Regions from separate parts of the Homo sapiens genome. Here region 2 is linked to region 1. Evidence: fine-mapped expression QTL. A gene starts in region 1. The other region holds a variant in brackets. All regions are shown on one strand. Distances are between the middles of the regions. Region 1 holds the start of LINC01819 (long intergenic non-protein coding RNA 1819). Region 2 has its middle 33 kb from the start of ZFP36L2.

The links.
Region 2: its variant is fine-mapped to the expression of LINC01819 in whole blood (TOPMed, PIP 0.97).

What each region holds. Positions count from the first base shown.
Region 1 is chr2:43,032,223-43,044,641 of GRCh38, reverse strand. LINC01819 (long intergenic non-protein coding RNA 1819) reads left to right here and starts at 5,099. Exons shown (of 6, transcript NR_110585.1): 1 at 5,099-5,522; 2 at 7,877-7,946; 3 at 9,490-9,587. RefSeq lists enhancers at 813-1,754, 2,398-2,692, 1,755-2,696, 2,697-3,639.
Region 2 is chr2:43,187,543-43,199,961 of GRCh38, reverse strand. No RefSeq gene overlaps it. Among named protein-coding and RNA genes, the nearest start is that of ZFP36L2, 33 kb to the left of the region's middle. RefSeq lists enhancers at 5,033-5,952, 11,685-12,418, 12,419 and a cis regulatory region at 8,909-9,507. The variant AGTGT/T (reference allele first, on the strand shown) is at 6,859.

The DNA of each region.
Region 1 (12,419 bases):
GCATTTCCAGGCCTCTTTCCTCCTGTCTCTGTCCTGCAAACACAAACACGGCCTGGCCCAGCATGGATAAGGTGAGTCCTGGGTCCACCGGCCAGTTATTCCTGACATATCCCCGTCCCAGGGCTGAGCTGACCCTTTGGCCCAGACAGGAGGCCCCAAGCTCGGGCTGGGCCGTGAGAGCTCCGGGAAACCTGGTTCCCACTTGGCCTGTGAGGCTGCCCTGGCCTCTCTTTCCTCTTCTTACCGATGGGAAGAATTTCTGGAAATGCGCTGGGCCAGTGACAATGAGGCAGGATGCCCTCCCCGCTCCCCAGACCAGCCTGGCTGAGAGACCCACCACCCCTCAGGGGCTGGGGCCCACAGAGGTAACCTGGCTAACCCCCTCCTGCCCTGTCACAAAGGGGAGGGCGGGCCAGCCCCTGCTCAGGCTCCCAGAGCCAGCTGGGAAGGAGGGCAAGCCCCTGGGCCATTTCCCAGAGGCCACATCCGTGCTGGGCCTGTCTGGCCTCCGGTGGCCCAGTCTTTCCCTCTTTCTTTTTTGCACTGGGACAGACAGCGGGGGGGAAGGACCCCCCACCCCCCAACACACACCAGGTGCTGGGATGCACCAGTGACCAAGGCAGCTCTGTCTCTGGGGCTCAGGATGAGGTCAGGGGGGGTCCCACATGTAACCTGGGAATGTCGATATAATGTTTTGAGGGCTTTGACAGACACTAGAGCCTCAAAAGCTCCAGTCTGGGAATGAGGAGGCCTTCCTGGGGACGCCCATTTATGAAGAAGCTTCCCTGGCTTCTGGGCCTAGAATCCACGAGGAAACCTTGCTTTCAAGGAGTTTCTGCTCCGTGTCCTCCTCCTCTCCACCTCTTTCTCTGCTTTCATTTCGTCGGACTGGCTGCGCCCCTACCTTTCTCTCTGAATCCATCACACCCCTCCCTGACTCCTGCCAGGCCATGGCAGAATTGCTGTTCCCAGGAAGGGTAGGTAAACGCTGGAGACGCAGCAGACCTTTCCCCACAGTACCCTGGCTTGGTGTCCACCCCTCTGCCATGGATGGCAGGAGGGACAGCCCCCCTACCCTGGCCGTACCTTTGCTCAGCCAGCTTCCCTTCTCGGTGACTCCATTACTGAGGCCACAGCCCATCACCCAGCCATCCTTCCTGGGGGAGGTTGGCCAGGAATTTTTGTACATTTATAAGTTTGTATTGTCTGAGGGGAAGCAGCCAAAAAAGAAAAGTTTTATCAGAGAATTGGACTTGGCTTTCCCTCAAAAGCCAATGGGGTTTCTGAGGAACGGATTTGAGGGGACACTAAGGCCTGGGGGGCAGGAAGGGCCTGGGAGTTCTGTGTCTCCCTTTAACTGGGGGCTCCCTGAGGAAGGGGCTGTGTTCCCACCTCAGAATGGGGGCTCTTTGAGGCCACAGCCATGTCCCTCAGTCTGAGCTGCTTGAGAGTCGGAGCCCTGCCTCTGCCCCGACTGGAGTGTGATGATCAGATGCCCCGCCCCACCCCTCAGGTCGAAGCAGGCACTGGGATCCCAAGGTGGTCCAAGGATGTTGCAGGGACCAGTGTTCCTTGGCCAAGGTTCTTTTAGTCCAAGATTCATCTCCCCGCCCCCAAACGCTCTCCTTTGCTCCCAGGTCTCCCAGAGTCTCTTGGGCCTTTGCTTTGGAGACTTCCTGCAAATTCCACAGCCTGGCCCCGGCCCCGGCCCTCTGGCCTGATCAGCCCAGGTTCTCCGGTCCGGCCACTCCTCTAGACCTTATTCTGTTTTTGTTTTTTGTTTGTTTGTTTGTTTTGTTTTGTTTTTAGACAGAGTCTTGCTGTGTCACCCAGGCTGGAGTGCAGTGGCACAATCTCGGCTCACTGCAACCTCCGCTTCCCCGGTTCAAGCAATTCTCCTGCCTCAGCCTCCCAAGCAGCTGGGATTACAAGCGTGTGCCACCACGCCCGGCTAATTTTTGTATTTTTAGAAGAGACAGGGTTTTGCCATGTAGGCCAGGCTGGTCTCGAACTCCTGACCTCAGGTGATCCACCTGCCTCGGCCTCCCAAAGTGCTGGGATTACAAGCATGAGCCACCGCGACTGGCCTAGCCCTGCTTATTCTCAAATTTCCTCCCCATCCCCCTACACACCGGTTGGTTTCTACCTCTAGCCTTTTCTTATGCCATCCCCTGGGCCTGAAGCACGCTTTCCATTTCTGCACTTAGCAGTTTTTATCATCGTTTCTGGCCCAAAACAAAGTCCTCCACCTCCCAGCAGCCTGCCCTGACTGCCCTACCCCATGCCAGCCTCACCTCTCTCCTCCCTCCCCGGAGTTCCCCTCAGAGCCATGCACCCATCACTTTATGGGGTCTGACACTTCCATGCTCAGTCCCATGCAACACACAAGCTGCTGGAGGAGGGGCAGGGGCAGAATGATGGATGAGGCTGCAGCGGCTTTGCTCCCTGCCGGGGCTGTGGTTAGATCTCCCCTCCAAGAAGCCTGATATTTTCCAGGAATTTCCTGAGGGGAGGGGGCCAAGTACTCTGGAATGAAAGCCAGCTGTGGGGTTGAGGCCTGAGGGTGGGGAAGGGGGCTCTGGGCTTCCTGGCTGAGTCAGCGGACCATTCCTAGGTAATTTATGGGCTGAGTCAGAGCTGTGGCAGTGGGGCGAGGGGTGGGGTTGGGAGAGCTCCCTGGTCTCTAGGCAGTCTGTGGAGGGGAGGGCAAGAGGACTGGCTGGAAGTAAGTCTGGCTGAGTCCAACACAGACCCCCTCTCCCCATCAGCCTCCCCACTGCTTGGAGCCTGTAAAAGCAGCAGCCAAGAGACGGAACCGTGGGGGATGGATGCAAGCTGGCAAAAGGGGAGAAGCCCCTGGCAGGCACTGGGGGCTCCTGAAGACAGAGGGGCACGCTGGCAGGGAGGGGCTTGGGCCAGCCTCAGGGCTAATTTGAGGGTAAAGAGAACTGCTAATTCCAGCACCTCAGCCTGGGTGCCCCCTCCCGCCCTTTTGTAGCAGGCCTGGCCTGGGCTGAAAAGCAGATCTGGGTTCTAATCTCCCTTCTGCATGGACCTGCGGGTGACACAAGCTTGGTGCCTTCTCCTCTCTGAACTTCAAGTCCTTACTTGGACAAGATGGCCTGGCTCCTCCCAGCCCTGGATTTGGGGATGCTCCGATGCTGCCTGGGAGCCCAGTCTGATCATGGTGGCCTGGAAATCAAGGCTAAGCGAAAGGAAAGCCTGAAAGAGCTGCACTCTAAGCACCACAGCAGGACTTGCCCCTGAATGGAGATGGGGCTGGGGCAGGAAGGTGGCAGGGAGGGGCTGGGCCCTGTGACTGTCACCTCCAGGTTGGAGGAGTGGGGAGGGAAAGGCAGGGCAGGGTGCGTTATCACACACACACTCACCCACATACACTCAAGCACACACCACAGAGTCCAAGGAAAACCTGTTTCTGTCCTAGCACTGAGCCAGGGATCCCACACAAAGATGGGTCCTGGCCAAGCGCAGTGGTTCACGCCTGTAATCCCAGCACTTTGGGAGGCCAAGGTGGGAGGACAACTTGAAGTCAGGAGTTTGAGACCAGCCTGGCCGACATGGTGAAACCTTGTCTCTACTAAAAATACAAAAATTAGCCAGGCATGGCAGTGCATGCCTGTAATCCCAGCTACTCAGGAGGCTGAGTCAAAAGAATCGCTTGAACCCAGGAGGCGGACGTTGCAGTAAGCCAAGATTGAGCCACTGCACTCCAGCCTGGGTGACAGAGTGAGACTCCGTCTCACAAAAAAAAAAAAAAAAAAAGAAAAGAAAAAGAGAAAGAATGGGTCCTGATGAAGTTCCTAGGAGGCTCCCTCCTGCTGACAGAGCACAGCAGGAGTGTCCCCCTGGGCGATGGGGCCCAGCTTTCCCATGTCATTCATGGGCATCTGTTGCATCATGATATCTGTTGCAGAATCATCCCATAGTGGCTTCCAAGCAGGGCGTTGCAGCTGAGACTGGCCCTGGTCTCAGCATCTTCGGAGAGGCCCCAGATTGATAAGTGTCTTGTTCTGAGTCATGGCTCAAAGTCCCCATGACAGACAGGAATCCCTATCAGCATGGTAGATTTCATAAACCCCAAATTAGGGCATGAGATCTGAAAAAGAATCTGGGGGATTTGTGATAACATGTGAGGGCATACAAATAAGGACTCTTACTTGCTCAAGACTAACAAACTGCATGTCTTGACAAGAGTAGCCAAGATGAAATCAAATGTAGACAGGAGGGTTCTGAACACACGTGGGGTCACTGGTGTGGCTTGGCCCGGGACTACCCCTCTCCCCCTCATCACCCAAATCCACCAGAGCCTTCTAGAGGAAGCATTCTCCCCACTGGTGGCGTGGTGGGGCCAGGGCCTCGACAGGGACTGTTGTAATCATCCAGGTGGGAAATGACAGAGAGGTGGTGAGAGGCGGGTGGGCTCTGGAAGAAGTTGGAATCCTGCTGACAAGATGCTCCAGTGGTTTGGACATGGGTCTGAAAAACTCCAGGACGGCTATCCAAGGTTTCGGCCTCAGTGAATGAAGGGATGGGGTTGCCACTGACTGAGGAAGAGAATGTATTCTATTGCATATTTAATTAATTACTTTGATGTGAAAAGTCCAAATAACAACTATGTCTGGAACTGAGCAGGGCATCCGTGGGACCACCGCCCACAGGCACCCAGGGCTTATGGCACCACCCACCCCCGTCGTGGGAGGCCCCAGAGACCCCGGCAGAGAAAGAGGGAGGCTCACCCTCTTGCTGTGGTGTGTGTGGGAGGGGCAGTGTGAAAAGGTCTGGCCCACCTGAGTCCCCTGGGCTGGTAGGAGAACTGGGGCCGGGCAGGGGGTGGTGTTGGAACAGGAGGGGTGGTGTGTGAGCCTCTGTGGGCAAAGACCCACCGTGGCCCACAGAGGCTCTTTCTCCTCAGACCCGGTGTGCTGTTACCAGAGCCTTCTAGAGGAAGTGTTCTCCGAGCTGAGGGCGGCTCTTTGATTCTCCAGGCCACAAACCCCCGCAGCCCGGCCTGGCCAGAGGCGTGCCTGTGCATCCCGGCAAGTGAGCGCCCAGGGACTCTCGGCCAGAGAGGCTGTGAGGGTGGCTTTGTGAGGATGGCTTTGTGTGGCTGCACATTGCCCTTGGCCAAGCCCCGCTGCCAGGAGAGGCAGCTCGGCTGCCAAACCTCCTGAACCCAAGTTACCTGAGCAAGCAGCCCTATCCCCTCGCCTGCTTCTCACTGCCTCGCCTGCCTTGGGCCTGCCCGACCCAGGGGGTCACATGCCTTGTTCCCCATCAGTGGAGACCAGGGACAAGAAGACAGTTCTGTGGGAAGAGCCAGGAGGACCATTTGGGAAAATACAGGTTCCAGGTGTGTCTCCAGACCTTGAGAGTTGGTGTCTCCTGGGAAGAGGCCCTGATGAGATCTGGGGAGATTCGGATCTGATGAGATTCAGGAAGCCCTGGCCTCTCCGTACTTGAGGAGACGGGACACACAGGACAAGCTGCAGGCTGGTGAGCAGGTATGTTCTGCTTCTTTGAGGACAAGAGAACCCTGGATCCTTGAGGGCTCTCAAGGGGCATTTACAGGGTCTGAGCCTAAATCGAGGCATCAGGTCCCAGAGAGGGCGAGGGTGCGTGTGCTCAGACAACCCGAGGTCCCGCAGAGGCCACCAGAGCCCCCAAGGGGGGTCGGAGAGAGTCCACTTCCCGCCAGAGGTGCGATGTGGCCACATCACTGGGCACCTAGTCCTTCTTTCTGCCAGCCTCAGCCATATGATGAGCAACCAACGCCTAAAGCTTCCTGAGCTGGAGGCGGGGAGGCAGGACTGGGGAGATTGGAGCTGGAGTGGAGTGGGCCTGAGCTGGGGACGGTGGGGTTCCTGTGACCCCGCAGGGTGAATGCCTGAGCTGGTTGCTCTGGATATGTGACCTGCTCCTCCCTTCTGTAAACTCTTCACCCTGATCTGGAGAAGGTGATCCCCAAGGGCTAGGACCCACCCACCCAGAAATACACTAAATAAGTAAATGTGCTCTGTTCAGATTTTATCTAATCAGGATTCCAGAGCACAAGACAAATGGCCTCACGTCCGGCTGGGAGGTGTAATTCATTCTCCTGGGTGAGTCCAAAGCCTGGGGCAGAGTGGGGAGAGGAGGGGCGGGGTGATTTAGTGTAGTGGAACGTGCACTAAGGGTCTGGGAGGCCCTGAAGCTTGGAGTGCAGGGCCCAGCGCCAAGACCTCCAGAACAACCCAGCCTTCCTCGGGATCTGCCCAGGGATGGAAACGAACCCTAGTGTCCTTTCTTTCAGGGAGTCTATTTCTGGGACTTATTCCAGGGAATATACATAGGTGGTCATTCAAAGATTTAGCCACAAAGTTGTCCTTCACTGTGACTTCTAAGCCTGAAAAACCGGAAGCAACCTAAATGTCCAAAAATGGGGCATGGGTTAAATACATTGTGAAACATCCAGAAAACAAAACACAATTGAGCCTTTAAAAATGATGTAGAAGAGCATCTAATGACATAGAAATAAGCAGATAGCATAACGAACAGAATAATACAAAGCTGAGATGTATATAAAATAATCTGATTTTTAAATCATTGATTGGGCTGGGCGCAGTGGCTCATGCCTGTAATCCCAGTACTTTCGGAGGCCGAGGCAGGCAGATCACCTGAGGTAGGGAATTCGAGACCAGCCTGACCAATATGGAGAAACCTCATCTCTACTGAAAAATACAAAATTAGCCAGGCGTGGTGGCACATGCCTGTAATCCCAGCTACTCAGGAGGCTAAGGCAGGATAGTTGCTTGAACCCGGGAGGCGGAGGTTGCAGTGAGCCGAGATTGCACCATTGCACTCCAGCCTGGGCAATAGTGAAACTCCGTCTCAAAAAAATAAATAAATAAATAATAAAGCATTGATTTATGAAAAACGTTGGAAGGATATACAATAAAACATTGACGAGTGGTGAGCTAAGGGGTAATTTTAGATTGCTTCTTTTTCTTTGTTTTTATTTTGGTTTTCCTTATTTGAATTTTTAATTTTTTTAGCATAATCATGCACTTACACAATAGACAAATATAAGGAGAGCTATTACTTTACAAACCAGAATCTCCGAGATTTAGCTCAGGAAGAATTCCTGGGTAGGAGAGACAGCTGGCTCAGTCAGCCCTCACTCCACCTCCCTCTGTGCACTCTCCTCTTTGGGTCACTTTTCTTCATTCCCACGGCTTCTTTCTGGCTGGGCCCCAGGGATGCCACCACTTTTTTAATTCTGTGGGCCAAACATAGCTAGAAACCCAGCCTTGGTGGTTGTTTGAGACCGAGTCTCACTCTGTCACCCAGGCTGGAGTACAGTGGCGTGATCTCGGCTCACTGCAATCTCCACCTCCCAGGTTCAAACAATTCTTATGCTTCAGCCTCCTGAGTAGCTGGGATTACAGGTATGTGCCACGACACCAGGCTAATTTTTTGTATTTTTACTGGGTTGGCCAGGCTGGTCTTGAACTCCTGGCTTCAAGTGACCTGCCCATCTTGGCTTCCCAAAGTGCTGGGATTACAGGCGCGAGCCACCACACCTGGCCGAAACCCAGTCTTTCGCTTCTTTTAACAAGCACAGCTAAGAAACCTGGGAAGATCAGACCAGATGGCACTAATAAGGGCACTGAAGGGAAGGCAACAGGACGTAAACATGGTGCCCAGAAGAACTGTAAACCCAATCCAGCTTCCCAAGGCAGGGGTGTCCTAGTCCTACCTTAACCAGTTACCCTCTGGAGGCTCCCAACTCCTGTCCATCCTATGTGGAGGTTTATGAGGGGACAGAGACCCCACCAAGTCCTTTGTCCCATCATAATTTTTATCACCTTCTTTTCAGGTTCACCTTCTATTTTGAAGACCCGCTTCTTCCTCAGGTACCTGATCTTGAAAACGACCTCCCCTTTCAGGTAGGACCCACCATGACATATGGAGAGTGATCTAGCCCTTGGTCCAGGCTCCTGATAAAAAATATTCCAGCGCACCCCCAAGCCACAGCACTCATTTCAGAGAACTGGCACCTCACACACATAAAAGGCCTCTCAGGACCCAAGAAGCTCCCAGGCTCCAAGAGCAGATACATTGGCTTGGCAGCCCCAAGCTTTCCTTCACACCACTCCACCTGCCTCAGTGAAAAACAGACAAGTAATCAATGAATTATTTCCCCATTAAAATAAACTAATAGCATTAAAAACTGTAATCTAAATATAGGCTAATTGTAAAAAATATGGAAAATCTGAAAAAGTATAAGAAATAAAATGAAAATACTCCATAATAATCACACTAAATGGAGATAACCATTATTGCTATACACATACACATTTAAATGAAACTGAGGTAATACCATGTGCATACACACATAGTATATATAAAATCCTGATCTTTTTCCATATCAATTACATCATAAGAATTTTCTTGGGTCATTAAAATATTCTTTGAAAATACGATGTAAAATGGCTGCATAGTATCCTATTGTACGGTACAGTGGTTACTAAGCCAATTTCCTAGTGTTAGGCATGTGAACTGTTTCAAAATTGTTCATTATTTTAAATAATAATTTAATAAACATTCTTACACATACATCTTTGCATACATCTCTGATTATTTCTTTCTCTCTTTTTTTTTGGGCGGGGGGGATGGAGTTTCGCTCTTGTTGCCCAGGCTGGAGTGCAATGGCATGATCTCGGCTCACCACAACCTCTGCCTCCTGGGTTCAAGTGATTCTCCTGCCTCAGCCTCTCGAGTAGCTGGGATTACAGGCATGTGCCACCACACCCAGCTAATTTTGTATTTTTGGTAGAGACGGGGTTTCTCCATGTTGGTCAGGGTGGTCTTGAACTCCCGACCTCAGGTGATCTGCCCGCCTCAGCCTCCCAAAGTGCTGGGATTACAGGCGTGAGCCACCGTGCCCAGCCTCTGATTATTTCTTTAGGATAAAGTCCTAGAAGTGGGATTATGAAGTAAAAGGATGTGAATCCCTGCAAAGTTCTTGGTGTCTGGGAGCAATGTGTTTTTGATAAATTGTGTTACCGTAGTCCCCTCTTATCTTCAGGGGACATGGCCCAAGCCCCGCAGTGGGTGTCTGAAATTGTAGTTAGTATTGAACCCTGTATACACTATGTTTTTTCCTATACATACATACCTATGATAAAGTTTAATTTATAAATTAGGCACAGTAAAAGATTAACAACAATAATAAAATAGATCAATTATAACAATATGCTGCAAGAAAAGTAATGTGAGTATGGTCTTTCTCCATGTGTCTCAAAATGTTATATTGTAGATCCTAGCTACCTGAGCTAAGATCTGAGATCTAAAATCTTGATTTTTTTTTCCATATAAATTATATCATAAGAATTTTCCTGGGTCATTAAAATAGTCTTTGAAAATACAATTTTATTTGATTTATTTATGTATATTTTTTGAGACAGGGTCTCTCACTTTGTCACCCAGGCCGGCGTGCAGCAGGGCAATCGTGGTTCACTGCAACCTCGACCTCCCAGGGTCAAGTGATCCTCCAGCCTCAGCCCCACAAGTAGCTGGGACCACAGGTGTGCACCACCGTGCATGGCTAATTTTTGTGTTTTCTGTAGAGACGGGGGTTTCTCCCTGTAGCCCATGCTGGTCTTGAACTCCTGAGTTCCAGCGATCTGCCCACCTTGACCTCCCAAATTGCTGGGATTGCAGGTGTGAGCCACAATGCCCAGCCTGAAAATACAATTTTTAATGGCTGCATAGTATCTCATTGTTTGGCACAATATACACTTTTTTTCTTTCCTTATTAAGTCAAGAACTTCCACCTTTTAATTTAAAGGAAGCACTTCACGGCTTCTCTTTGGCACATCCAAATTTCCAGCATTGCTACTCTTGTGCTTTGGGGCCATTACAAGGTAAAACAAGGGTTACTTGAACACAAGCACCATGATACCTTGACAGATGGCCCCTAAGGGACACGCAGGTGGGTGGCAGCCACAGCATGGATACGCTGGAGAGAGGAATGATTCATGTCCCAGGTGGGACATCAGGGGATGGCCTGTTGGAGTAGGAGTCAGGAGGCCAGTGTGGCCAGAATGGAAACTTGACATCTATTCTTATGATTCTTTAAGGGAAGTGAACCCCACTGTGACAGCCTGGCCTAGGCCAGAAGGCAGCAGAATGGCAGAGGGCAGCTTCCACAGCTCCAACACCTGCTCAGGTGTTTATGGCAGTGAGGAGGGAGAGCATGTCCCAGAGCTGGGTTCCACTGTGCCGGGTGCTGAGAGTCCAGGGCTGACTAGGTCATGACTCTGCTTCTAAGTTGATTTTATAAATTCGGCACAGTAAGAGATGAACAACAACAATAATAAAATAGATCAATTATAACAATATGCTGCAATGAAAGTTATGTGAGCATAGTTTTTCTCTCTATGTCTCAAAATATTGTAGATCCTAGCTTCTAAGTTCAATTTATAAATTAGGCACACAATCCCATGGGGTCGACGGATGGACACTGTTAACAAGCATATGGCATGACAGATAGGGGAGGCTTCCTGGAGGAGGTGACATTTGAGTGGGGCATTGAGGGATGAACAGGTGAATTGGATTTCAACAGGCAGGGAATATATTAATACCTGTTTGCTGAGAAGAGCATAAGGGACCCATCGTTATTAGGGTGTGGACCCATGGCCTTGATCTGGGATTATCACTGGGAAGTAGAGAAAGCAGAGAGTGAGAAGAGGGTTCAGAAGAGGACCCTGGGCCACATGGCCATGTTGAAGGTGGGGTAAGAGGTGGGGCTGGAAAGTGCTGGAAGGGGGCTAAGGAGGAGCATCAAGGCATGAGGAACACCAGTGGAGTGGGCTGTCACAAGATTTAAGAACGACCAACGGAGAAAATATCACATATTGATGGGAGGCCAAGAGAGACAGGCTCTAAGGAGGGCCCAGGGCCGGCAAGCATTTGGTCCCGGGAGACCCTGGCAGGGGCCGGGCTGGTAAAGTGGACAGGATAGAGGTCGGGGGCATTTGATTCCTGCGGCTGTCATGGTAACAAACCACTTCAAACTGAGGGGCTTAAACAACACACATTATTCTCTTACAGTTCTGGAGGCCAGAAGCCCAAAATCAGTCTCGCTGGGCTAACGTGAAGGTGTCAGTCGGGCTGGTTCCTTCTGGAGGCTCCAGAAAAGAATCTGTTTTCTTGCCTTTTCTGGCTCAGTTTCTCGGCTTGTGGCTCCTTCCTCCATCTTCAAAGAGCACCACTCCAATCTGCTCCTCCATCAGGTCACCTTCTGCCTGACTCCTACATCCCTTTCAGAAGGACCCTTGTGATTCCATGAGGTCCACCCAGATCACGCAGGATAATGTCCCCGTCTCAAGAGGCTTAATCTAATCACAGGTGAAAGCCCTATACGAGGTGTCATGGACAGATTCTGGGCCTAAAGACATGAACATCTGTGGGGGCATCACTCAGACTTCCACGGGTGACAAGGGCCCCATGGTGGGAGGGGAGAAGAGGAGGAAACGGGAGAGTGAGGATTCACCAGGAGACTGGCCCGAGAAAGGAGACACGGATTGGACAGGCTCAGCCAGTGGAAGACCGTCCTGCCTGGAGGGAAGTGGCTTTTAGGAGTTTTTTCCTGAGCCTGTTGTGTCTCCTTCCCTCCTTTCTCCCCCAAATCCAACTAGAAAACTAGAAACATAATCTGTTGTGTTGACTCCATAGGTCTTGCTTCCCCTCAACCCAGACACCGACTCGCCCAAGGGTCTTCCAGCTGGCTGAGTTGGAACCTGCATTTTTTAACCACAAGGAAAAGAAGCCCAGAGCTACCAAGAATAATATTTTATTGACTTGGAATGAGTTTTGGAATCTGTATTTTTAACAAGCTGCCCAGGTGATTTTGATGATCAGACAGTTTGAGGTGGTTTTTTTTTTTTTCCTTTCCTCTTTCTCTTCCCTTCAGTAAACTGTTTTTCAACTTTGTTTTTCAGTGAAAACCATTTCCTCCTCGTCGTGGCGCAGGTCCAGAGGCTGCGCCCATCTCTCCCACGTCAACAGTCCTGTGTCCTTGGCGAAGGACTGTTCTCTCATTCAGTGCCTTTCCTCTCTTCCTGGGCCAAATCCCTGCTTTGCGTCTCCCTGCAGCTCATAAAAAGCTGAATTACCTGAGGCAGGGAAAGCCCCACCCACTGTCATTCTCAGGGAGGAGTGGAGTCTGCAGAGGCCGCAATGCACAGCTTCCCTATCCCCCTCCACCCGTGTTTTCCCAGAGCAGCTCTGTTCCAGGCCCGGGGGTGTCCCTGGGCCGAGATGGAATCCAGCCCTGACCACCTCCCAAAGCCAACAGCCCTGAGTGAGCGTGCAGAGAAGCAAGAGCTGTTCCTGATGCAGAGCAAAGACATCTC
Region 2 (12,419 bases), 160 kb before region 1:
GGGCATGCCCACGTGGGCCCCACCTCAGCAAGGCTATTTACAAATAGGAAAGGCAACGCCTTCCTTCAGTGGAGTGTGTTGGGGAGAAGCTTCTCTTTGTGGGTGCACAAAGGGATGTTTGGGAGTCGGAACTCTGCAGGGTTGGGGTTAGGAGTAGAGAGGTACCCAGCTCCTGCTTCTCCAGCCCCAGCACAGCTACATCCTCCTGCCGCTGCTCCTAGGAAGGGTCCCAGGAAAGGAGAGTGTGAGCCCAAAGTGTGGGCTGGCCCCTGGCACCACGGTGCCCTGGCAGAGAACTGCCTCCCTCAGGAGATGAGGGCCTTCCGGGGCCAGCTGCTTGGCCTCCCCCTTTAGAATGGGGCCTCCTGGGGGCGGAAGCCGAGTCTTCTTCCAAGACAGAACCAGGGGCTCTCCTTCTTTCCGTTCTCCATGTCCCCTGGCAGTTCTGTGCCCATTTTCTCTGGTGACATATGGCCTGGGCCCGTGATGTCAAAGGGTCTCTGCTTCTTTTCCTTGGACTGTAGGGCTGGCCATCCCACGCCAGACCTTCTCCCTGGTCCATGAGGGTTTGGAGGGGAGGTAGGGCTGAGGAACGGTTGATGGGAGGAGAAGAAGGCAGGGCTGATACATAATTTGTGGAGTCCAGTCTAAAATGGAAAGTCAGGGCCCCGTGGTGGCTCACACCTGTAATCCCAGCACTTTGGGAGGCCAAGGCAGGCGGATCGCTTGAGGTCAGGAGTTCAAGACCAGCTTGGCCAACATGGTGAAAACCCATCTCTACCAAAAATACAAAAATTAGCCAGGCATGGTGGCATACACCTATAGTCCCAGCTACTTGGGAGACTGAGGCACGAGAATTGCTTGAACCCGGGAGGCTGAGGTTGCAGTGAGCCAATACCGCGCCACTGCACTCCAGCCTGGGCAAGGGATCGAGACTCTGTCTCAAAAAAAAAAAAAAAAAAAAAGGAAAAGAAAAGAAAAAAAGAAAGTCAGGGCCCCTTGCCCTTGCTCAAAATTTTTAAATTCCAGGATGACATTAACAGAGCATTAAACCAACCATGGGGCTGCATAGGTCACTGTTCATGAAGCCAGCCCTGCAGGAGAGGGCAGGTGTTCCAGAATCAGGGCCCTTGGTGGGGAAAGGAAAGGAGGTTGGAGCAAGGACCCAAGGTCCCTGCTGGACCCCCAGAAAACAAGGGAAGTGAGGCTGATGAGGCTGGATGGCACCAGATGCAGAGGGTCCTGAACACTCAAACTTGACCCTGATCCTAGAGGTAGACACTGAAGATTCCTGAGCCACAGGGAAGTGGGCCAGGGAGGCTGGGTCAGGGCAGCAGAGACATTAGACCTGGGAGGGCCTTCGAAACTCATCTGCTTGCCCTTTCCTGAAGAGGAGACTGAGGCCCAGAGAGGGACCAAGACCCGCCCAAGGTCACCCGGCAAAGGGTGCAGAGCTGGGCCAGAGCCCTGGCTGCCTAGAATCTTGTCTCAGGTTGTGCGGCGAATTAAGTTGAGAGCTGATGTGCAGGGTAGGAGGGCAGCTGGTGCTGGGCCTCTGGTGTCTGTGTTCACCTAAGGAGTAGGACCCACCCTCCCAGCACCTCTGAGCCGGCACTTTCCTTTCCTGGGTGCTCTTCTCCTCTGGCCCTGCCTCAGGGTTTCCTGTGTCCCTCTCACTTGGGGTCCATCCTCTTGCTTCTCTGCTGCCTTCCATACTTGGCCCAGGAGCGGAGCCTCACTAGGCATCTGGACTTTTGGAAAATTCCTGCCCCACCCCCTACCCCACTGCCAGCCTGGCCTTCAGGGGCACTGAGTGGGGGACCCTGTGACAAGAAGATAGCCAAAGGCCGGACGCGGTGACTCCCGCCTGTAATCCCAGCACTTTGGGAGGCTGAGGCGGGTGGATCACCTGAGGTCAGGAGTTCGAGACCAGCCTGACCAACATAATGAAACCCCATCTCTACTAAAAATACAAAAAATTAGCTGGGCATGATGGCGGGCGCCTGTAATCCCAGCTACTTGGGAGGCTGAAGCAGGATAATCACTTGAACCCAGGAGGCGGAGGTTGCAGTGAGCTGAGATGGTGCCATTCCACTCCAGCCTGGGCAACAACGGTGAAAGTTCATCTCAAAAAAAAAAAAAAAGAAGGCAGCCAAGGCCCACAAGGTTCCTCCAGGCCCCAGCTACCCTATTTCCTCTAGCCTGCCCCTGTAATGTAACCAGATGACCTGTCGCCTCCCTATTCTCCCTGCATTCCAGGGCCCACCTAACGCATCTGGAGGCCTCACGGAGGCCTTGGGGCCCCCTGAGGACCACAAATCCGTTACTTCTCAGTGCCCTTAGGGACATGGAGAATGGTCCAAAAACAGTCTATGCAAATACATGCAAAAGAGATGTAAATAGAAATGTGAGCATCCCCAGTTAAAGCCAATTTCGGCTTTAAGTGTTGCTTCCCTCCTCTCTGCTTTGCCTGAGTCATCAAAATTTGTGAGTTTGTGTGAATGAGTGAGAGTGCGTGTGGGAGAGAAAGAGAGACAGACAGAAACACAGGGCAAAAGACAGCGTGGCAGGCTGGGCGGGAAACCTGGCTCAAAGTGTGTGTGCTGTGCTGGGATATGGGAACACTGCTTATGGCTGAGAAGCTCGTATTATATGTTTCCCGGACTCCCCACTATCCCCTGACAAACCCTGGGCTCACTGTCAAGGATGGGGGAGCTGGACTGTGGGGAGCAGTGGTCCAGGGAGGAGGTGAGGGGCAAAGGGGAGCAGGTTGAGGTTCTCAAGGATGTACTGGGGGTTCAGCTCTGAGTCTAAGACAAGGGGCTGGGGCCCCAGAGGAAACCTCTGAGCCCCTGAGGTATGGGTCTGGAAGCCCCATCAGTGCCAGTCAGAGGCCATCCCCTTCCTTAGTGTTGCTGCTGCCCTGAGGAACTCGTGTGGGAGCCACTGGGCCAGCGAGGCTCTTGACCTTCGGGGGCCTTTCTTTCCTCATCTGTAGACACAAGCGCTGGTGTGAGGAAACCGCAGTGCAATGCTGATTCTACACCATCCTGCACTGGTAAGATGATTTGTAACATGCAGGAAGAAGGAAAATGGCAGGTCCTTCTAGACGTCTCTGCAAAAAACTTAGTAAAACATCTTAAAGGAATGAGCCCCATTTTAGGAGGGAGAGAGAAATCCCCATCTAGAGCCAGTGGGTCTCCACGTGGAGTCTCCTTGGGTCATATCCTCGGTTCTGAGGAGATCAGGGGCACCCTTACTTGGAAGAGCTAAAGTCATCTCTCCCACATAATGGAGGCCATAAGCGGTTGTTAAGTGTTCAGGTATCAATACAGGTGAGAGAAAGTTGAAAGGAGAAAGGGGCCAGGCGCAGTGGCACACGCCTGTAATCCCAGCACTTTGGGAGGCTGAGGAGGGAGGATCGCTTGAACCCAAGAGTTTGAGACCAGCCTGGGCAATATAATGAGATCCCCAAGTCTACAAAAATAATTTTTTTTTTTTTTTTTGAGATGGAGTCTGGCTCTATTGCCCAGGCTGGAGTGCAGTGGTGTGATCTCGGCTCACTGCAAGCACCGCCTCCTGGGTTCACGCCATTCTCCTGCCTCAGCCTCCAGAGTAGCTGGGACTACAGGCGCCCGCCACCACGCCCCGCTAATTTTTTGTATTTTTAGTAGAGACAGGGTTTCACCACATTAGCCAGGATGGTCTCGATCTCCTGACCTCGTGATCCACCCACCTCGGCCTCCCAAAGTGCTGAGATTTAAAAAAATTTTTTTAAATTAGTCAGGCATGGTGGTGCACACCTGTGGTCCCAGCTATTTCGGAGGCTGAGGCAGGAAGACCACTTGAGCCCAGGAGGTCAAGGCTGCAGTGAGTTATGATCGCACCACTGCACTCCAGCCTGGGTGACAAAGCAAAACCATGTCTTAAAAAAACAAACAAAAAGGCCGGGCGCGGTGCCTCACACCGGTAATCCCAGCACTTTGGAAGCCTGAGGAGGGTGGATCACTTGAGTGAAGTCAGGAGTTTGAGACCAGTCTGGCCAACATGGTGAAACCCCGTCTCTACTAAAAATACAAAAATTAGCCAGGAGTGGTGGTGTGTGCCTGTAATCCCAGCTACACGGGAGGCTGAGGCAGGAGAACGGCTTGAACCCAGGAGGAGAATGGCTTGAACCCGAGAGGCAGAGGGTGACAGAGTGAGACTCCATCTCGAAAGAGAGAAAGAAAGAAAGAAAGAAAGAAAGAAGGAAGGAAGGAAGGAAGGAAGGAAGGAAGGAAGGAAGGAAGGAAGGAAGGAAGGAAAGAAAGAAAGAAAGAAAGAAAGAAAGAAAGAAAGAAAGAAAGAAAGAAAGAAAGAAAGAAAGAAAGAAAGAAAAGCAAGCAAGCCACACATGGTTGGGAACTGTGGCTGAAAAGAAGCTGAGCTTGGGGCCTAGACAGCTGTGGCAAGAACGGTGTTAGGTCCTTTTCAGTTTTGTATGGCTTTTGCACCAGGCAGGCCAGCTTCTGCCATTTCCTGTCTGTTTGAGCGTGGCCAAGTCCTTTAATTTCACCCAGCCTCAGTTTCGCCATCTGTAAAATGGGGATGACATTGCCTGTCACTAGGCCTGCAGTGTCAATGCAGTTCACTGACATGCAGAGAGAGCAGTGCAGGCCCAGGCTACGGTGGGGCTTACGTACCATAGTAACTTACCCACACAGTCATCTGGGGCTTCCCCACAAACAGGAATGAGAGCATATCAATAGAGTTATTATTTGAATAAATAATTCCATTTTTCTATATTTATAGAAAAAGACGCAGGTGAACCCTGTGTCATACTGCCTGTGGTTCCTGCTGTGGGGAGGGTGACCATGGCTTCACCCAGGGGCAGGCCCTAGGCTTAGGTGAGATAGAGCAGTCCCCGCCCCCAGCGCTCGGAGGCTGTGCACTTAAACTTCAAAGGACCTTCCAACAGATGCAGCTGGTTTCCTGCAGCCGTGCAGCAGCCAATGCCAGCCTGAATCACCCCGGCCTAAGGGAAGCTGGGGAGCAGAGGCCCGCAGAGACCTTAGCCCAGGTTAATATGAGAGGCTTCCTGGAGGCAGAACACACCCAGATTCTAACTGCTAGAAGAAAGAAGAGAATGGCGTGTTGGGGAGTTGCTGTAGCCCAGGGTGTTGGGGCCTGGGATGTGTAGATTCAGAGGGGTCTTTAGGAGGAACGACTTGGGAGATAAGAGCGATAAGAGCACTGATAAACGAGGTCACAGGTAGGAATGTAACCTGCGGACTCTCCAAGCCCCAGGAGTAGCTGGGTTCAGGCAGGTCCTCTCCTCCAGAAGGCCCACCAGGAGTGCCTACAGTGGTGTAGCTTGCAGCTTCCAAGCTACAGGAAGAGTCCTTGGGTCTGTGCTGTGGGTATGAGAGAGTGAGATGGGGTGGACACGGGCCAGGGCCAGGGCCAGGGCAGGATGGGGGCATGGGGAAGTGGTATCCCTAAGCAAGGGGCTTAGAGGCCCTGTGTGGGGCTGGCCCACGGCAGGTGGGAGGGATTTTTAGGTAGGCTCAGGTGCAGATGGAGACATTACGCCGTGGCCCCACAGGTGGTTAATATTTAATCTCCTCCTTAATCATTAACTCCCTGGCTGGCTGGGGAGGAACAGGGCTGTTGTCAAATCAGTAACCACAGGCCCAGGAACAATGTCCACAGATCTCATGGCCTCTCCCATTGCTGGCCGAGTGGGGTAACCCCTGGCCCTGGGGGCCAGGTGCATCTCCCTCCCACGGTGACCTTGGGCCATGGAGAGGGCTTGAAGAGGCCAATCCTCTCCGAGCCCCTGGATCGCCCTTTACCCTCCACCCTCTACTTACTGGTGGGGAGTGGTGGGAGGTGGTGTCCATTCACGCATGAGGGTTCTAGTCCCTACCCACTCCTTCCAGGCTGTGTGACCTTGGGCAACTCACGTAGCCTCCCTGAACCTCAGTTTCCTCATCTGTGCAATGAGGATAATTATTCGTGTCTTGGAGGATTGTCATGAGATTTGAATGAGAGGAGGGTATACAAGGAAGTACTTTCTAAGCTGACGATTGAGTTAGCAAACAAGTTAGAGAAAGTACAGATGGGAAGAGACAGAGAGCAAAGGGTAAAGAGGAAAGAAAACAGCTTGAGAGCTCTTGTTTCCATCCACCCAAATGCAGTTCCTTTCCTTGGAGTTTGTTTTAATTCATTCAAGGAGTGTTGATTGATAAGGCTGTGTCTCCCTAAGTGGGGCTTTAGGGGTAATTTAAAAAGGAGTCAACCTCACCCTCAGGGAGCAAGAGTGACCAGGCTCCAGGGCTGAACCCAGCAGTGTCTGGGATGAAGGTCAGCAGGTCAGTGGGATGGGCTGGAGGGTCAGAGCAGGCCTTAAGGCTGAAGCAGGGCGGGGAGAGGATCCTGAGGGATGATTAGGAGTTGCGTGTGGAGGTGTAGGGAGGACTGTGCGTGCAAGCTTGCACCTAGGGATGTTTGTGTCCTTGAATTCAAGCACATAAGCAGACTATCTGAACACAGCCTGTCGCGAGGGTACACATGAATCACCCACAAACTCAGAGTAGTCAGCCACCCACCCACAAACACACACACACAGATGCACACGGTCACCCCAGGGGCGTGTGGACACACCAGCACCTTGGGATGGCAAGGCCCTCCTCTTCCAGCCCCAGCCCTGAGGCTTTCTGGATAACTTAGCATATGTGTCCCCCAGTTTGTGTGCTTTCTGGGCCTGGCTGACACCCATCACAGGACTGAACACTTCTGGCGTTCCAAAGTCTTCAGGTACATCAAGAAGCCACGGTATCCTCTCAAAGCCACCAGGTCTCCAGCTGGGACCCAGTG[AGTGT/T]GGATGTGAGGGAGCTGTAGGCAGAGAGCTTGGAGCTGGTATGGAGCCCTGGACACATCGCTGCCTGGGACAGGAGACAGGGCAGCTGGACATTGCAAACCCTCCCTGACCACTCCCCAGCCTGTGGGAGCAGGTGGAGGCTGGCCTGGGGGCAGCAGCTGGCGCTTCTTGGAGGAGGTGGGCATGGAGCTGGCCTTTAGAATGGAAGGATTTGAGGGGCAGAGATAGGTCGCAGGGAGCTACTGGAGCCCCCAGGAGCCAAGCCCCCAGCCCTCCTCTGGGTGGTTCACTCACATGCCACACTTGGGCTGGGCCCAGCCTGCCAGAACCAAAAAGAAGCCAAGCAGTGACTTTTTTTTTCTTTTCTTTTTTTTTTGTGAGACAGAGTCTCACTCTGTTGCCCAGGCTGGAGTGCAGTGGCTCAATCTCAGCTTACTGCAACCTCTGCCTCTCAGGTTCAAGCGATTCTCCTGCCTTAGACTCCCAAGTAGGAGTAGCTGAGACTACAGATGCATGCCACCATGTCCAGCTAATTTTTGTATTTTCAGTAGAGATGGGGTTTCACCATATTGGCCAGGCTGGTCTTGAACTCCTGACCTTGTGAGCCGCCTGCCTTGGCCTCCAAAAGTGCTGGGATTACAGGGGTGAGCCACCTTGCTCAGCCCAGGCAGTGACTTTTGAGAAACTGGGCTGAGTGGTAATAAAAACAAAATTCTGTCCTTCCCCGTGCTGCCTCCTACAGGGGACTCTGAGGACTGGAGGTCTGGGGGAGGGGTCCAGCTCTGAGCTTTCTAAGCAAATACTAAGACTTCTCCTACAGGAAGCCAGTCCTGACCCATGGTCCCTGCCCCAAGGAGTTGCTAATCCAGTGGATGCCATGGATCCAAACTGCCAGAGCCTGAATCCTGCCTTGATCTGTTTCTGGCTGTGTGACCTTGGGTCTGTTACCCGACCTCTCTGTGCCTCTGTTTTTTAATCTAGAACCTGGAGGTGATAATAGTGGAGTGAATTTGCTGCTTGTGGTTGCTGTGAGGGTTAGATGAGACCCAGGGCTCAGCACAGTGCCTGGCATATAGTAAGTGCTACAGCCATTTGAAGGAGAATGTGTTTTTGACTGCCATCTTTAGGGAAGCTTCCTGGAGGAGGAGACATATAAGCAGGCCCCTGAAGGACCAGCAGGATCCCCAGAGATCCAGAGGGAGGGAAGGTACCACTTCCCTGCGGAGGGGCCAGGGCGAGTGTGGGCAGGAAAGAACGTGGCATAGTTGGGGTCACCAGGAGCCTGTGAGGCCACAGCCCCTGCTTGGAGGACGGAAGTGAGGGTGATGATCAGGGTGGGGAGTGGTCAGGGAGGGTTTGCAATGTCCAGCTGTCCTGGAGAGGGGAACGCTTGGAGGCTTGTGAGGGGAGCCCCAGGATTGCTCAGGCTGAGCTTGGCAGCAAAGAGCAGGCCCTGTTGGAGGAAGAAACCCAGGCAGAAGGCTGTCGGGAGACAAGAGCCCTGCAGGAAGGAGGCACGAGGGCTCTGGGCTCAGGCGGTGCTGGGAGGCTGGCCGGAGACTGTGGAAGGGGCAGTGCACAGGCCTCATCTGCAGGCTGGCCTCTCCAGCTGGACTCATTCAGAAAACATCCTCCACAAAGCCCCATCAGAGAGCCCTGGGACATGCTGAGGCCCCGTCCAGCCCCGACTTCCTATGGGTCTGGCCCAGTGACCTTGGGCAGGTCACTTACCCAGCCTCCATTTTTTCTTTTTTTTCTTTTCTTTTTTTTTTTTTTTTTTTGAGACAGTCTTGCTTTGTCGCCCAGGCTGGAGTGCAGTGGCGCGATCTCCGCTCACCGCAAGCTCTGCCTCCCAGGTTCACAGCATTCTCCTGCCTCAGCCTCCTGAGTAGCTGGGACTACAGGCGCCCACCACCACGCCCAGCTAATTTTTTTTTTTTTTTTTTGTATTTTTAGTAGAAATGGGGTTTCACCGTGTTAGCCAGGATGGTCTCGATCTCCTGACCTCATGATCTGCCCGTCTCAGCCTCCCAACCTGCTGGGATTACAGGCGTGAGCCACGGTGCCCGGCCCCCAGCCTCCATTTTTTCATCTGCCAAGTGGGCACAGGAATTCCTGCCCACTGTCCTTGCCCATGGGGTTGGAGAGGCGGTCTGATCTTGGGATGTAGAAGTCCCAAGAGGAGTCTCTGCTGCTTTCCACCCAAGGGCCAGGCAGGGAGGTTCAGGGCTGGGGAAGAGCCAGGCTACAGCTTTGCCTCTCTCCTCCTGGGCTGGCCCCTCAGCTTATCTGGGTCAGGGCAGAAGCTGGGGTGGGCGCGGAGGAGATACTCCTTCAGCGGCCTGATAGTGTGAGGGGATGATAAAGGGCCCAAGCCCAGCAGCCAGCTTAGGGAGAGGTGGTGCGACCAGTGAGGCTGGGCTGGAGGGTGGCATTGCTCCAGGCTGGCACTGCCCTGCCCCTCATCCAGCCCCACTGCATCCCTGAAGGGCAGTTGGGTACTGCCCAGCCTTACACCACCCCATGGGCAGGAGAAGGGAGAGGCCTCTGAAGGTTGATGGTGGCCTTTGGACACTGTTTCAGGGAACTGATGGAGGCAGAGGCCAGCCTCTCGGGTAACAGAAGGGTGACCGACTTGCCCTGGGTTGCCTGGGGCTTTCCCAGTTTCAGAGTGGAAAGCCTGTCCTGGGAAACCCTTCAGTCCTGAGCAATTCAGAATGGTTTGCTGAGGCCAGCCATTCAGTTTTTGGTTTTTTGTTTGTTTGTTTGTTTGTTTTTTGTTTTTTTCTTGAGACAGAGTCTTGCACCCAGGCTGGAGTGCAGTGGCGTGATCTCAGCTCACTGCAACCTCCACCTCCCAGGTTCAAACGATTCTCCTGCCTCAGCCTCCCCAGTAGCTGGTATTACAGGCACATGCCTCCAAGCCTGGCTAATTTTTGTATTTTTAGTACAGACAGGGTTTCACTATGTTGACCAGGCTGGTCTCGAACTCCTGACCTCAAGTGATGCACCCGCCTCGGCCTCCCAAAGTGCTCCCACAGGCGTGAGCCACCACGCCTGGCTGCCTTTGTTTCTTATCTACAACAAAGAGGTGATAGTAGAGTACATTTGCTGCTTCTGGTTGCTGTGGGGGTTAGATGAGACCCAGGGCTCAGTGCGGTGCCTAGCACATAGTAAGTTCTACAGCCATTTGAAAGATAATGTGGTTTTTTGTTTGTTTTTTAATTTTTTTTTTTTTTTTTTTTGAGATAGAGTCTTGCCCTGTCGCCCAGGGTGGAGTGCAGCGGCTCGATCTCGGTTCACTGCAACCTCCACCTCCTGGGTTCCAGCGATTCTCTTGCCTCAGCCTCCCAAGTAGCTGGGACTACAGGTGCATGCCACCACACCTGCCTACTTTTTTTTTTTTTTTTGAGACAGAGTCTCTCTCTGTTGACCAGGCTGGAGTGCAATGGCAAGGTATCGGCTCACTGCAACCTCCACCTCCCAGGTTCAAGTGATTCTCCTGCCCCAGCCTCCTGAGTAGCTGGGATTACAGGCGCCCACCACCACGTCCAGCTAATTTTTGTATTTTTAGTAGAGGCAGGGTTTCACCATGTTGGCCAGGCTGGTCTCGAACTCCTGACCTCAGGTGATCCACCCACCTCAGCCTCCCAAAGCGTTGTGATTATAGGTGTGAACCACCGCACGGCCGAGAATGTGTTCTTGACTGGCATGTTCAGGGAAGCTTCCTGGAGGAGGAGACGTATAAGCAGGCCCTTGAAGGACCAGCAGAGTCCACAGAGATCCAGAGGAAGGGAAGGTACCACTTCCCTGAAGAGGGGCCAGGGCGAGTGTGGGCAGGAAGGAACACAGCATGGCTGGGGTCACCAGGAGCTTGTGAGGCCACAGCCCTTCCTGGAGGATGGAAGTGAGGGTGATGATTGGGGTGGGGAGTGGTCAGGGAGGGTTTGCAATGTCCAGCTGCCATGGAGGGGGGAACGCTTGGAGGCTTGTGAGGGGAGCCCCAGCATCGCTCAGGCTGAGCTTGGCAGCAAAGAGCAGGCCCTGTTGGAGGGAGAAACCCAGGCAGAAGGCCGTCAGGAGACAGGAGCCTCACGTGAGGGAGGCACCGCGGCTGGGGGCTCAGTGCTTGATGACAGGTTCAGAATAGGCTGCTGGGACTGGACAGGAAAGCTGTCAGGAGGGCAGAGGGATACCTGGGGACACCTCGCCCCAGGGCATTCAGAAGGGAGTCCCTCTGCAGCCTGTTCTTCCAGCCTACGCCCCCTTGCCCCCTGCCTTGGGCTTGCTTTCCTCCAGCACTTACACTGTAAAAAATCATGGCCTTGGATCGGCGCAGTGGCTCAGGCCTGTAATCCCAGCACTTTGGGAGGCCAAGGTGGGCGGATCACAAGGTCAGGAGCTCAAGGTCAACCAACCTGGTCAACATGGCGAAACCCTGTCTCTACTAAAAATACAAAAATTGTCCAGGTGTGGTGGTGCCTGCCTGCAATCCCAGCTACTCGGGAGGCTGAGGCCGGAGAATTGCTTGAACCTGGGAGGCGGGAGGTTACAGTGAGCCAAGATCATGCCATTGCACTCCAGCCTGGGCAACGAGAGCAAGACTCCATCTCAAAAAAAAAAAAAAAAAGGTGGGGGGGCTTTCCTTACCTTGATGCTGACACAGGAGGTGAAAATCCTAAAGACCCTTGGCCCTGGCACCCCATCTAGGATGGGCACGGACGGGGAGATGAGAGCAAGATTCATGCAGGAAACAGAGCACCCCAGGGGAGAAGGCTCTGAGTTTTGTTTGGGTGATGGGCCTGAGGGGATGAGACAGGCAAGTTGCATCCAAAGCAGCTCCTAAGGTTCAGACAAAAGAATGTATAATATCTGAGAGGGAAGGTGGGCTCTGGGGAAATGTATGAATCAGATGCCAGCTGGGCGCAGTGGCTAACACCTGCAATCCCGATACTTTGGGTGGATCACTTGAGCCCGGGAGTTGGAGACCAGCCTGGGCAACATGGTGAAACCCTGTCACTACACACAAAAAAACAAAAATTAGCCAGGTGTGGTGCGTGCCTGTAGTCCTAGCTACTCAGGAGGCTGAGGAAGAAGAATGGCTTGAGCCCAGGAAGTGGAGGCTGCAATGAGCCGTGTTTGCAGCACTGCGCTTCAGCGTGGGTGACAGAGCGAGACCCTGTCTCAAGGAAAAAAAGAATTAGATGCCCCCAGAGTGGCTATTCTAGACTGGATGGGCCGTCTACCCCACCTCCCTCCCAGGAGCCCAGAGTTGGTGGTGTGGACAAAGTCTGTTAGTAAAGCTGGATGTGGTCCTGTTGTTAACATCAGGGTTGGCAAATGGGCCCAGTTAAGCTGGTCACATTCTAACTGTAGGCGCTGTTGCTTCCAGAAAGTCCTTCCTGGCCCTCTGTGGCCCACCCCCACCACGGCTCCTTCCACCTCACATCACGCCCCGTCACTTTCACCTACTTACACCTCCACTATCCCCTCCTCCCTGGAGGTGTCCCTGTCTGGTCACCTCTGAATCTCCAACACCTTCCAGGTAGTGTGCTCA